2 separate regions of the Homo sapiens genome follow, and region 2 is linked to region 1. The links come from fine-mapping of genetic effects on gene expression. A gene starts in region 1. The other region holds a variant in brackets. All regions are shown on one strand. Distances are between the middles of the regions. Region 1 holds the start of CLEC14A (C-type lectin domain containing 14A). Region 2 has its middle 150 kb from the start of CLEC14A.

The links. PIP is the estimated chance that this variant, and not a neighbour inherited with it, causes the effect.
Region 2: its variant is the best candidate, but not a certain one, in a credible set for the expression of CLEC14A in fibroblasts (GTEx, PIP 0.85).

The regions. Positions count from the first base shown.
Region 1 is chr14:38,253,439-38,258,823 of GRCh38, reverse strand. It overlaps CLEC14A (C-type lectin domain containing 14A), which reads left to right and starts at 2,731. Exons shown (of 1, transcript NM_175060.3): 1 at 2,731-4,824. The coding sequence starts at 2,802. The coding sequence ends at 4,274. LOC112268136 (a long non-coding RNA gene) reads right to left here and starts at 2,779. Exons shown (of 5, transcript NR_169588.1): 1 at 2,379-2,779. RefSeq lists an enhancer at 2,922-3,549.
Region 2 is chr14:38,402,027-38,407,411 of GRCh38, reverse strand. No RefSeq gene overlaps it. Among named protein-coding and RNA genes, the nearest start is that of CLEC14A, 150 kb to the right of the region's middle. The variant C/T (reference allele first, on the strand shown) is at 3,022.

The DNA of each region.
Region 1 (5,385 bases):
ATCTAGTACTGTTCTTTTAATTGTATAAAAATGTCAGACTCTGTATCGTTTTTGGAACTTCTGTCCATTAACATTGTATTGCTAAAATAAATTCATATTGTTACTTGCCACTATATTGTACTAATTTTTACTCCTATATAATATTAAATTAGTGAATATACTACAGTTTATTTTTATACTGTTTTTGGATATTTTGATTGATTCAACGTTTTGTTAATATGAATAGTGTCACTATAAACATTTTTTACATATCTTCTGTTGTACATGTGCAAAAATTTCTCTTAGTTTTATACCTTATCATGGAAGTGCTAGAGTTTGCAAATATTCAATTTTAGTGAAAAAAAGTGTCAAATTTTTCCAAAGTGGTTGCTCTAATCTGTAACATGTAAAAGAGCCAATAGATTCACATTTGGTATTATAAGATTTTTAGGCATTTGGAATCCAGTGGGGGTAAAATGGTTCTATATTATTATCTTAATAAATATTATTAAAAAATAGAAACTTTCCTCCATTTCTAATTTGGTCAGATAAACTGTCTATTTCAAACTAATTACAAAACTATTTACGTCCTACTTTGAGCTAATTTTTTCTAACTCTTGTGTCATTCCATGATATGGTCATGGTCATGGTCAGTACTCTCATATAGTCGTTATGGCCAATGTGTTCTCTGCTATAATCCCACTCCCCTAGACAGAATGTCAGGGAGTGAGATCATGTATTTACTTAAGCTTTCCAGCTATTCATTCTTTCTTACTGTAGACACCTCATCTCATCCCAAACGATTTTTAAAGCTATCTAAGAAATTTCCATTGACTACTTAAGTTTGAAAAAGATTTTATTAAAAATATTGCACTACATGGACACATTTACAAACACAGTCATAAGATTGCAATGGTCTATAGAGAGCTGGCCCAAGTGACTAAGTATTTTTTAAAAACCATTCAATTTGATTTCTGGATTTTCATGTTTCTTTCTTATAAGACACTAAGTTACCTAATTTAAACGCAAAGCCACGTTTAAGGTGATTCTCAGACATCTGAAGGAAGGACTAAGGAATGTTCTTTAAATTGGGAAATAGGGCAGGAGAGAAATCCTAGTGCAAAGCTCCATACTCAGCAAAAGCAAGGTAAGTATGATGATGACTCATAGGCTTACTGTTGTTTGTTAAGATACATGGAATTTCCAGGAGGAAAGAAGAATGAGAGTTATGGTAAAAATAAGATGGAAGCATACAGATGTGATCCTGAAACCTTCCCTCCCACCCCTCATCAACCTGAATGCAGTAAAACAAAGTGAGCTTATATGCATTATCCATGGAATGGCAACTTTCATTCTGATTAAAGATATTTAAAAGCATCAGACATCTCTAAGAGGGCTTAGCTGAAACTCTCTATGTATTTCTGATGGCAACGTATTTGGCCATTATGAACCAAGATAGAATGTACGTTTTCTAAACTGATACTGAATTGTCTAAGTTGCTAACAAGAAATCCTTTCATAACAGTACAGTTTTTAACCTTTACTTCTTTATTCATCTTTAATTCCTTGCCACTTCCCACTGAGTTGAAATGTTTATATTAAAACAAAACACCCACTGGAATTCTAAAGAAATTGGCTCACCCATCTTTCAAATTACAAGATATTTTTTGACAGTATACAATATTCATTATAATGGAATAAACATTTTAATTTCTTAAGGAACTCTAATTTTCCTTAAAGGAGATGTTTACAACTTACTATTATAAATGCTGCCACTCAATCATAGGAGAAAATGATACTAAAATAGTTCAAGGCTAAAATCACACATAGGGCAGTTGTTCTCGAATATTTATAAGGCCACGAACTCATTTATGTATAACCTATAAACTTGAAGAATTTTTGAACCAATACAGTGGCAAGGAAAGCTAACAACCTAACTGTTAAGATCTATGGTCATTATTTTTCATTTAGTCCTAGAAATACATTTCCTTTCTGTAATGAATCAATATGGTCTAACTCAAAGAGAAACACGTGGAAGTGAAAAATAAATTTCTAAAGCAAGTGCTGATGGAAGAAGCAGAATTTCCCATTTAAAATACCCAAACAACTCCAAATTCTTTAGTAGTTAGGACTCCTGAAATCTCTTGACATAATAGAGAAGCAAAGACCCATAGAGAGATATGCGGTTAAATAGTGCTGCCTCTGGTGGCAAAAGCAGTTGCTAAGTTGTTTCACAACATATTTTTCCCCCACAGGCACAGGCCCCCCAAACACTGGAGCCGTCTACGAATTATTCTGACGCTAACTCCACAGCTCCGGACAGAAACACAATAGACGGGCGTGGTCTTATAATCATAAGCCAGTTCCTTTCTCAAGTCCTTCCTGCCTATGTTCGCTTACGTGTTATGGGTTCTGCGGTCCTGATGAAACTCCCTGAACGGAGAAAAACCACACACTTCATCCCAGTGGCGAATTTCTCCTCTTGCTCTAAGCAGGGTGTTTGACCTTCTAGTCGACTGCGTCCCCTGTACCCGGCGCCAGCTGTGTTCCTGACCCCAGAATAACTCAGGGCTGCACCGGGCCTGGCAGCGCTCCGCACACATTTCCTGTCGCGGCCTAAGGGAAACTGTTGGCCGCTGGGCCCGCGGGGGGATTCTTGGCAGTTGGGGGGTCCGTCGGGAGCGAGGGCGGAGGGGAAGGGAGGGGGAACCGGGTTGGGGAAGCCAGCTGTAGAGGGCGGTGACCGCGCTCCAGACACAGCTCTGCGTCCTCGAGCGGGACAGATCCAAGTTGGGAGCAGCTCTGCGTGCGGGGCCTCAGAGAATGAGGCCGGCGTTCGCCCTGTGCCTCCTCTGGCAGGCGCTCTGGCCCGGGCCGGGCGGCGGCGAACACCCCACTGCCGACCGTGCTGGCTGCTCGGCCTCGGGGGCCTGCTACAGCCTGCACCACGCTACCATGAAGCGGCAGGCGGCCGAGGAGGCCTGCATCCTGCGAGGTGGGGCGCTCAGCACCGTGCGTGCGGGCGCCGAGCTGCGCGCTGTGCTCGCGCTCCTGCGGGCAGGCCCAGGGCCCGGAGGGGGCTCCAAAGACCTGCTGTTCTGGGTCGCACTGGAGCGCAGGCGTTCCCACTGCACCCTGGAGAACGAGCCTTTGCGGGGTTTCTCCTGGCTGTCCTCCGACCCCGGCGGTCTCGAAAGCGACACGCTGCAGTGGGTGGAGGAGCCCCAACGCTCCTGCACCGCGCGGAGATGCGCGGTACTCCAGGCCACCGGTGGGGTCGAGCCCGCAGGCTGGAAGGAGATGCGATGCCACCTGCGCGCCAACGGCTACCTGTGCAAGTACCAGTTTGAGGTCTTGTGTCCTGCGCCGCGCCCCGGGGCCGCCTCTAACTTGAGCTATCGCGCGCCCTTCCAGCTGCACAGCGCCGCTCTGGACTTCAGTCCACCTGGGACCGAGGTGAGTGCGCTCTGCCGGGGACAGCTCCCGATCTCAGTTACTTGCATCGCGGACGAAATCGGCGCTCGCTGGGACAAACTCTCGGGCGATGTGTTGTGTCCCTGCCCCGGGAGGTACCTCCGTGCTGGCAAATGCGCAGAGCTCCCTAACTGCCTAGACGACTTGGGAGGCTTTGCCTGCGAATGTGCTACGGGCTTCGAGCTGGGGAAGGACGGCCGCTCTTGTGTGACCAGTGGGGAAGGACAGCCGACCCTTGGGGGGACCGGGGTGCCCACCAGGCGCCCGCCGGCCACTGCAACCAGCCCCGTGCCGCAGAGAACATGGCCAATCAGGGTCGACGAGAAGCTGGGAGAGACACCACTTGTCCCTGAACAAGACAATTCAGTAACATCTATTCCTGAGATTCCTCGATGGGGATCACAGAGCACGATGTCTACCCTTCAAATGTCCCTTCAAGCCGAGTCAAAGGCCACTATCACCCCATCAGGGAGCGTGATTTCCAAGTTTAATTCTACGACTTCCTCTGCCACTCCTCAGGCTTTCGACTCCTCCTCTGCCGTGGTCTTCATATTTGTGAGCACAGCAGTAGTAGTGTTGGTGATCTTGACCATGACAGTACTGGGGCTTGTCAAGCTCTGCTTTCACGAAAGCCCCTCTTCCCAGCCAAGGAAGGAGTCTATGGGCCCGCCGGGCCTGGAGAGTGATCCTGAGCCCGCTGCTTTGGGCTCCAGTTCTGCACATTGCACAAACAATGGGGTGAAAGTCGGGGACTGTGATCTGCGGGACAGAGCAGAGGGTGCCTTGCTGGCGGAGTCCCCTCTTGGCTCTAGTGATGCATAGGGAAACAGGGGACATGGGCACTCCTGTGAACAGTTTTTCACTTTTGATGAAACGGGGAACCAAGAGGAACTTACTTGTGTAACTGACAATTTCTGCAGAAATCCCCCTTCCTCTAAATTCCCTTTACTCCACTGAGGAGCTAAATCAGAACTGCACACTCCTTCCCTGATGATAGAGGAAGTGGAAGTGCCTTTAGGATGGTGATACTGGGGGACCGGGTAGTGCTGGGGAGAGATATTTTCTTATGTTTATTCGGAGAATTTGGAGAAGTGATTGAACTTTTCAAGACATTGGAAACAAATAGAACACAATATAATTTACATTAAAAAATAATTTCTACCAAAATGGAAAGGAAATGTTCTATGTTGTTCAGGCTAGGAGTATATTGGTTCGAAATCCCAGGGAAAAAAATAAAAATAAAAAATTAAAGGATTGTTGATAACCCAGACTCAAATATCATTGCCTTCCTCCAGGAGTAATTAGGAACAGCTGAGGGCATGCTGGGAGTAAGCAGCAAGAGTGCATTCTGCTTTTAGATTGAGGGAGAGGTCCTTAAGTTCCTCGAATGAGACACAGATCTTTAAGAACTAGTAACTTTTTCATTGATTCTTTTATCCTTTCTTTTCAAAGTCACTGCTACTTGTGTGCTTTGCTATAAATCGAAAGTGTAGTGTTGCCAGAATTGCTGGCTCTGGAAGAAAATTACAGTTGACCACCAGTTCAAGTGTTTACTTTATGTCCATGCCCAAGGAAAACACATAATTTGCGTTTTCCCTTTCCAGTGTTTGTGCTTTCCAGCGTAATGACCTCCCCAAGCAAATAGCCCTCTCCTGAACATCAAGATGCTCATCCTCATCTTCAATTATGGTGATGTTAATTCTCAATTAAAATGTTAATGCTAAGTATTGATTTGCAATCTTCTGGTTGCATCAAAGAAAAAGTAAGCTGGTTTTCCTCCAAAGTTGCTAAGTTCTTGTGCATTTTTCAACCCATGGAAAAACTTGAACACCAAGCCATTTTCTTTTTCTCTTGATAAGAATGTGTGCAATAACAATACTTGCTCATTTTGGAGTGATTATAATCTTACAAGTGTTTACATGGGCAAAGGCAT
Region 2 (5,385 bases), 150 kb before region 1:
AAGGGTGCCAATTTGCCCATTACTCAACACCTACAATGAATCTTGCTTCCGATGGGCCTCAGGGTCATGGGATTGGCCTTCTGTAGGGATTGGTACCTGGCAGATAATCTGCCTGTAGCAGGACTGACACTCTTGCCTGTGACATCTTCTGAATATAATAAGATCCTGGGCCATAAGTCACCCACAATAAGATTTCGAATTGTCAGCAGAGTGAAGTTCAGTGTTTGCCTGAGATCTGGTCCTGAAATGTAGTCTATCTGAAAGGTAGTCATAGCTCCCTCAAGAGGGTTGGGAGAGATTCATAAATTTTCATTCTGTTGTTCCCTGACGTTATTCCACACATGTAAATTTTTAAAGCATACTCTGTTAATAGAACAGGAAGGAGATAAAAGTGAAACTCAGAAAAGTGGATGGCAAGAATTCTGCGAAAATTTAATTATTGCCATCCACAAAAGTAATAGGTAATTCTTGAATTTTAAAAATTAAATGGTTACTTGATTTCACATATATGTCTGTGTTAGGAGATGAGACAGACCAGGAATCTGAAAAAAATAATTCTAATCTGCATGTGCATATGCATGTGTCTTTGTGTAATAATTTATAATGTGCAGACACCAAGTCTCATAGAATTCTATCTCTATGCAATAGGAGGAAGAAACTGAGACCATTTTTATTTTAACATTCATTCTTCATTATTTCCCTAGGGCATTTTTTATTTCAGATGGTTCATTCTTTTCAAAGCCCATAAGTCTCCTTAGAAAAAATGTTCACCTTGGGAAAGTAGAGACTCCACACTGAATCTTGTGCGGCTCTTTTCCTGGCCATGGAATATTTAAAATGAGCGCAGAGGAGGGATGAGTGTTTTGCATTTTATTGCCTTATGCTCTGCATTTCAAGGATAATCCAAATATCTAAAATGTGTTTGCAGTAAAGCACCCCTTCCTGCTTGCAGTGTCCTTGAATACCACTGAATGTGTCATCACTCTTCTAATATCAGTAGCTGAGAATAAATCTAACCACCATGAGGCTGTAAAACATAAGTGTTCCCCATAGTAATACTAAGATAAATGCAGAGTCATATCAGTAATACTGCCCTGGAGGTAGAACTTTCTGCTGGAGCTTATCATGTGTTTAATGAAAGATGCAATCAGACAAATTAAACGCCATATATTTTATTCATATTCATGCAACTGTTCTTTTAATCATGCCCTTCCATGAAAGGCCAAGTTGAACCACTTCTGTTTCTAGTCTACTCCACTCACCCTGCCCAACCCTCCTCTTATAAACAAGAACACAGGCAGCCCCCTGGGAAAGGGCTAAGACAAATGGAGCACAGCTGCTGCTCTGGAGAAGGGGGAAATTGACTGTTGTTGTATCAGATCACCACTAGTCTTATTTTTCTCAGTCAGCCATAAGCATCCTGTGTCTCTTTAATCTAGAGGCAGCTCAGAGGCCTGGGGAGGGAGAATGCAGGGCAGACAGGGCTTGGCACACAGACAGGCTGGCCCTATTGTCAGCAAAAGGGAGGTCTAAATTTCCAAAAAGATCTTTAGCAGAAAACAAATAGAACACAAGCATCAGTAGATTTACTTACAGAGTACAGCTCATTAAGTCTCCTCTACCCAGCTAATTATAGTCTAGCTTTGCCCCTTCCCTCACTTCATTCAGATTGGGAAGGTATGGGAAATAAACTGAATTCATTTGGCACCTCATTACTGAGTATGGTTCTCTCTGGGTATAGGTGTTTTGTTCTAAGTGTGTTTCTCTTGACGACAGTGTGTAGTTAGAATTGGCTTTGTGGCTCAATAGGAGTCTGTTTCTTTTCATAGGAAAATTCAGACCTTTATTGACATGACAGAAATGTTTGCTTTTAGTTCCATCACCATATTTTATGTTATGACTTCTGTTTTTGTTATGTCAAAAATATTTTAGTGTGTATTTTTTCCTAATGATTAACTTTGTCCAATAAACTGAATCCTCTCTTTTTTAAAGTACGTATACTGACTCCCTATTATGAGCTAGAGGTGAATTTAAGACATGTCCATTTTAACCCTCCTCACTCCTTCGCCTCTACTACCTAAATTTAAGTTAATTATGCTTTTTTAGTGTTTATCTTTACATTTCACAGCTTTATTTCTTGCTTTTCCATTTTAAATGTCTTTGGATCCCTTGGCTACGAGAGATCAGCCTGTTTACAAAATCTGCCCTTACCGCTCCCTTCTTTGCCAAAAATTATGATTATAATCATTTCTATATGGTGGGGGATGAAGACATTTACATTCTGGTCTACAATAAAAAATTACTATTTTTATTTCAAATCCTAAAGTTAAATGGATTTAATGATCACACCCATGCCTTTTACCTTGGAAAGCTAAAGCTTGTTCTCTTCCACTTTTTAAGGAACTGAGGAAATGTATATTCATTGCATGTTTTTAAAAGTTTGTCTTCGGATTTTATACATGATCTGTATTTTGTGGCTGGGTACGTAAATCTCAGTTTACACTCATTCTTTGAAAACTTTATAGTCATTGCTTTGCTATTTTGGGAACTGTTAGCAAATTCTTTTAAGTATCAGGATACACTTATCCAGCAATTGACCCAGAAATTCCACCCCTAGATATTTGGCCAGGAAAAATACCAACATATTCCCATAGAAATATTTGAATATGAGTGTTCATAAAAGCTATATTCACAACAGCCAAAGGCTGGTGATAATTCAAATTCATATCAGAAGGAAAATGGATGAATAGGTCATGGTGTATTTATACAATAGAATATTACTGAGCAATTAAAAGAAACCACTGACACACATGTCAACATGAATGAATTTTGTAGACAGCATATGGAGCAAGAGAAGGCAGATATAACAGTGGTCAAACATAGGTTTTGATATTTTCCTGCAGGAAGAATACTGCACTAAGCCCTAGTGTGTAACCAGCTAGAAATGTAACTTGTGAAACTCAAGCCTTTCTAGGCTTTGACTTTGCATCTAAAAAAGGAGAAGTTTAGATGAAATTATTT[C/T]CAGCTTTCTTAGGGTTCTAAAATCCAGAGACATTAGTCATTTATAGTCTGCAGTAACACAGCTAAGAACTTTGAAATTCACATAAAAGAACATTAATCAAGCGTTCCATCCCTTAAAGTGTATGAGTTGTAATCTCTAATAACCTTCCAGTTTTAACACAATGGTTTCTAAAACATTGTGAGGAATTGCTACATACCCTAAAAATGAAGAATGCAGGCCTGAGTGAATAAGATCAAGTTATATCAGATTTACTAATCTATTTCATTACTCATTGCTTATATATCATTTCCTCTTCTCTACTAATGGTCAAGTTTTTCTTATTAATTCATCAAGTATGTATTGAATGTCTATCTTAGAACTGTATGCAGGTCCATAAATTTGTTTTATTATTGGTTAGGGAATTGACTATTATGTTTGGGTGTTTTTCTTTCCTTAATACAATAAAACAAATTGAAAGGTTTCATTCTCTCTTTAAAAATTAACTTAAAGTAACTTCTGATTAATATGTTTTCTCCACTTGCTGAGGTTTTCTTTTCTCCAGTGAGGTCTCTGTTCATAAACAAAATTGGGACTCACGAAAGATGTAGCTCTTCAAGGAAAGAAAAGAGAGTAGCAACTATCCCTAACAATTTTAATTATTTCTAGGCCTTAAAAAAGTACTATTTAAAGCTCTAATTTAGGTATAATTTACGGCTACTTAGAAAAGTACATTTGTTTGATTCCAATAGTATTCCAGTGTAGTCTAGTTGGTCTAAAAAATCCTAGATTTTAGTGCTGCTGCCATTCTCTAAAAAACTTAGATATATAGTTGAATTTTGTTTTTTTTTTTTCACTGCTAGTTAGACAACAGCAATCCCAACATTCTATGTTTGTCAGACTCTAGAAACTAAACCTCACATAAGGCAAGAAATAGAAATCACCATCCCAAATCTCAAGCTAGTCCAACAGAGAAGTTTATAAATGATTTTAACTCTGATCATGAGGGCATTGTTTATTAACCTGTCTAGGACCTGTTTAAGGGTTATAGGAGGGTCCTCTTTATTCCCAGTGAAGGCAATTGTGAGGTAAAATGAGAGTATCAGAGTTCTCCATTCCTGGAGTGGACTAATTTTTCAGAGCTGATCTCTAAATCCTTTACAAAATATTCAAAAGCCTTTTGGTGGGAGCCTTTTTGTCTAACAAAAGTACACGCTGTGACATTTGGGCATCTGCTCTGCAGCTTTGGCTACAGCTAGGGGTGACTTACTATACTCATGTGAAATTTCATCCGCACCTGCTGGATGTCCTGTAACAGGTGGCTGTTTCCTATGGATGGAGACCTTATCTTATACTCGGCATTTCCTATAGATCCTACCCAGTGGCTTGTATACCACAGGTAGCCATTAATTACTTGGTTAACCGACATTTCCTGCTAACTACTGTGTTTCCTGTAAACATAAACTTTAATTAACCCCTTTCTTAAAGATTTTTCTCAAAATAAAGAAAATATTATAAGTACCTTTCTGGGAAATATTTAAGTAAGAATATAGAATTTCATGTCTGAAATAATTAGTGTTAAGCCCTACTTGGATTGAAGACAATAACAGTAAAATAATTGCATGTTTGTTTCCAATCCTTCATTCCTTCCCATATTCTTGCCCTTTGCCCCATGACTTGGAGATTCCTTCAATGAGGGGTGGGGGATATATCCCCATCCCACTGAAGTCGTGGGAACAGTGTTTTATGACAATAACCGACTTATTCAGGCAAGGACACAGAAAATAAGACTGTCTTCCTGAAGATGATAACAGAAATCCTTCTCAGGTATAGTTCACAGATCAAGCAGATGAAGAGATTTTTAGTAGGTGATAAAGGCATTTTCACACTGCCATCGTGTTAAGTATTCATTTTCATTAAAGAGCAAGTGGTTACTTGACACCTTCTGAGATCTCCTAGTTGTTTAGTACATTTGAAAACATTGAAAAAGCATCTGTGCTCGTGTTTAAGATATATGCATTCTATTGTATCTCCCAATGAAGATAAAAAGCCACATGGTCCACCTTTGTAGACTACAAAAGCATGTCCCAGGCTCAGAGAAATCCTCATGAGTCATCTGACCATTCCAGTTGCAGGGCAGACACAATCTTCAAAGAAGACACATGTAAGTGCAACAAATAATACCTGAAAGGACTTTCCTATCATTTGGACACTCTAGGATAATATGTGTATGAGAGAGAGAAAGGAAGGGTATAGATAGGCTGACTTTTAACAAGAGGATGTACACAATATTTAGCACAGTTTAAGGAACAGTCCTGGAGAATGCTGGTGGCAGAGGCAAAAAGGAATATAGAACAAATTGAAAAGCAACCATTGACAATCAATAA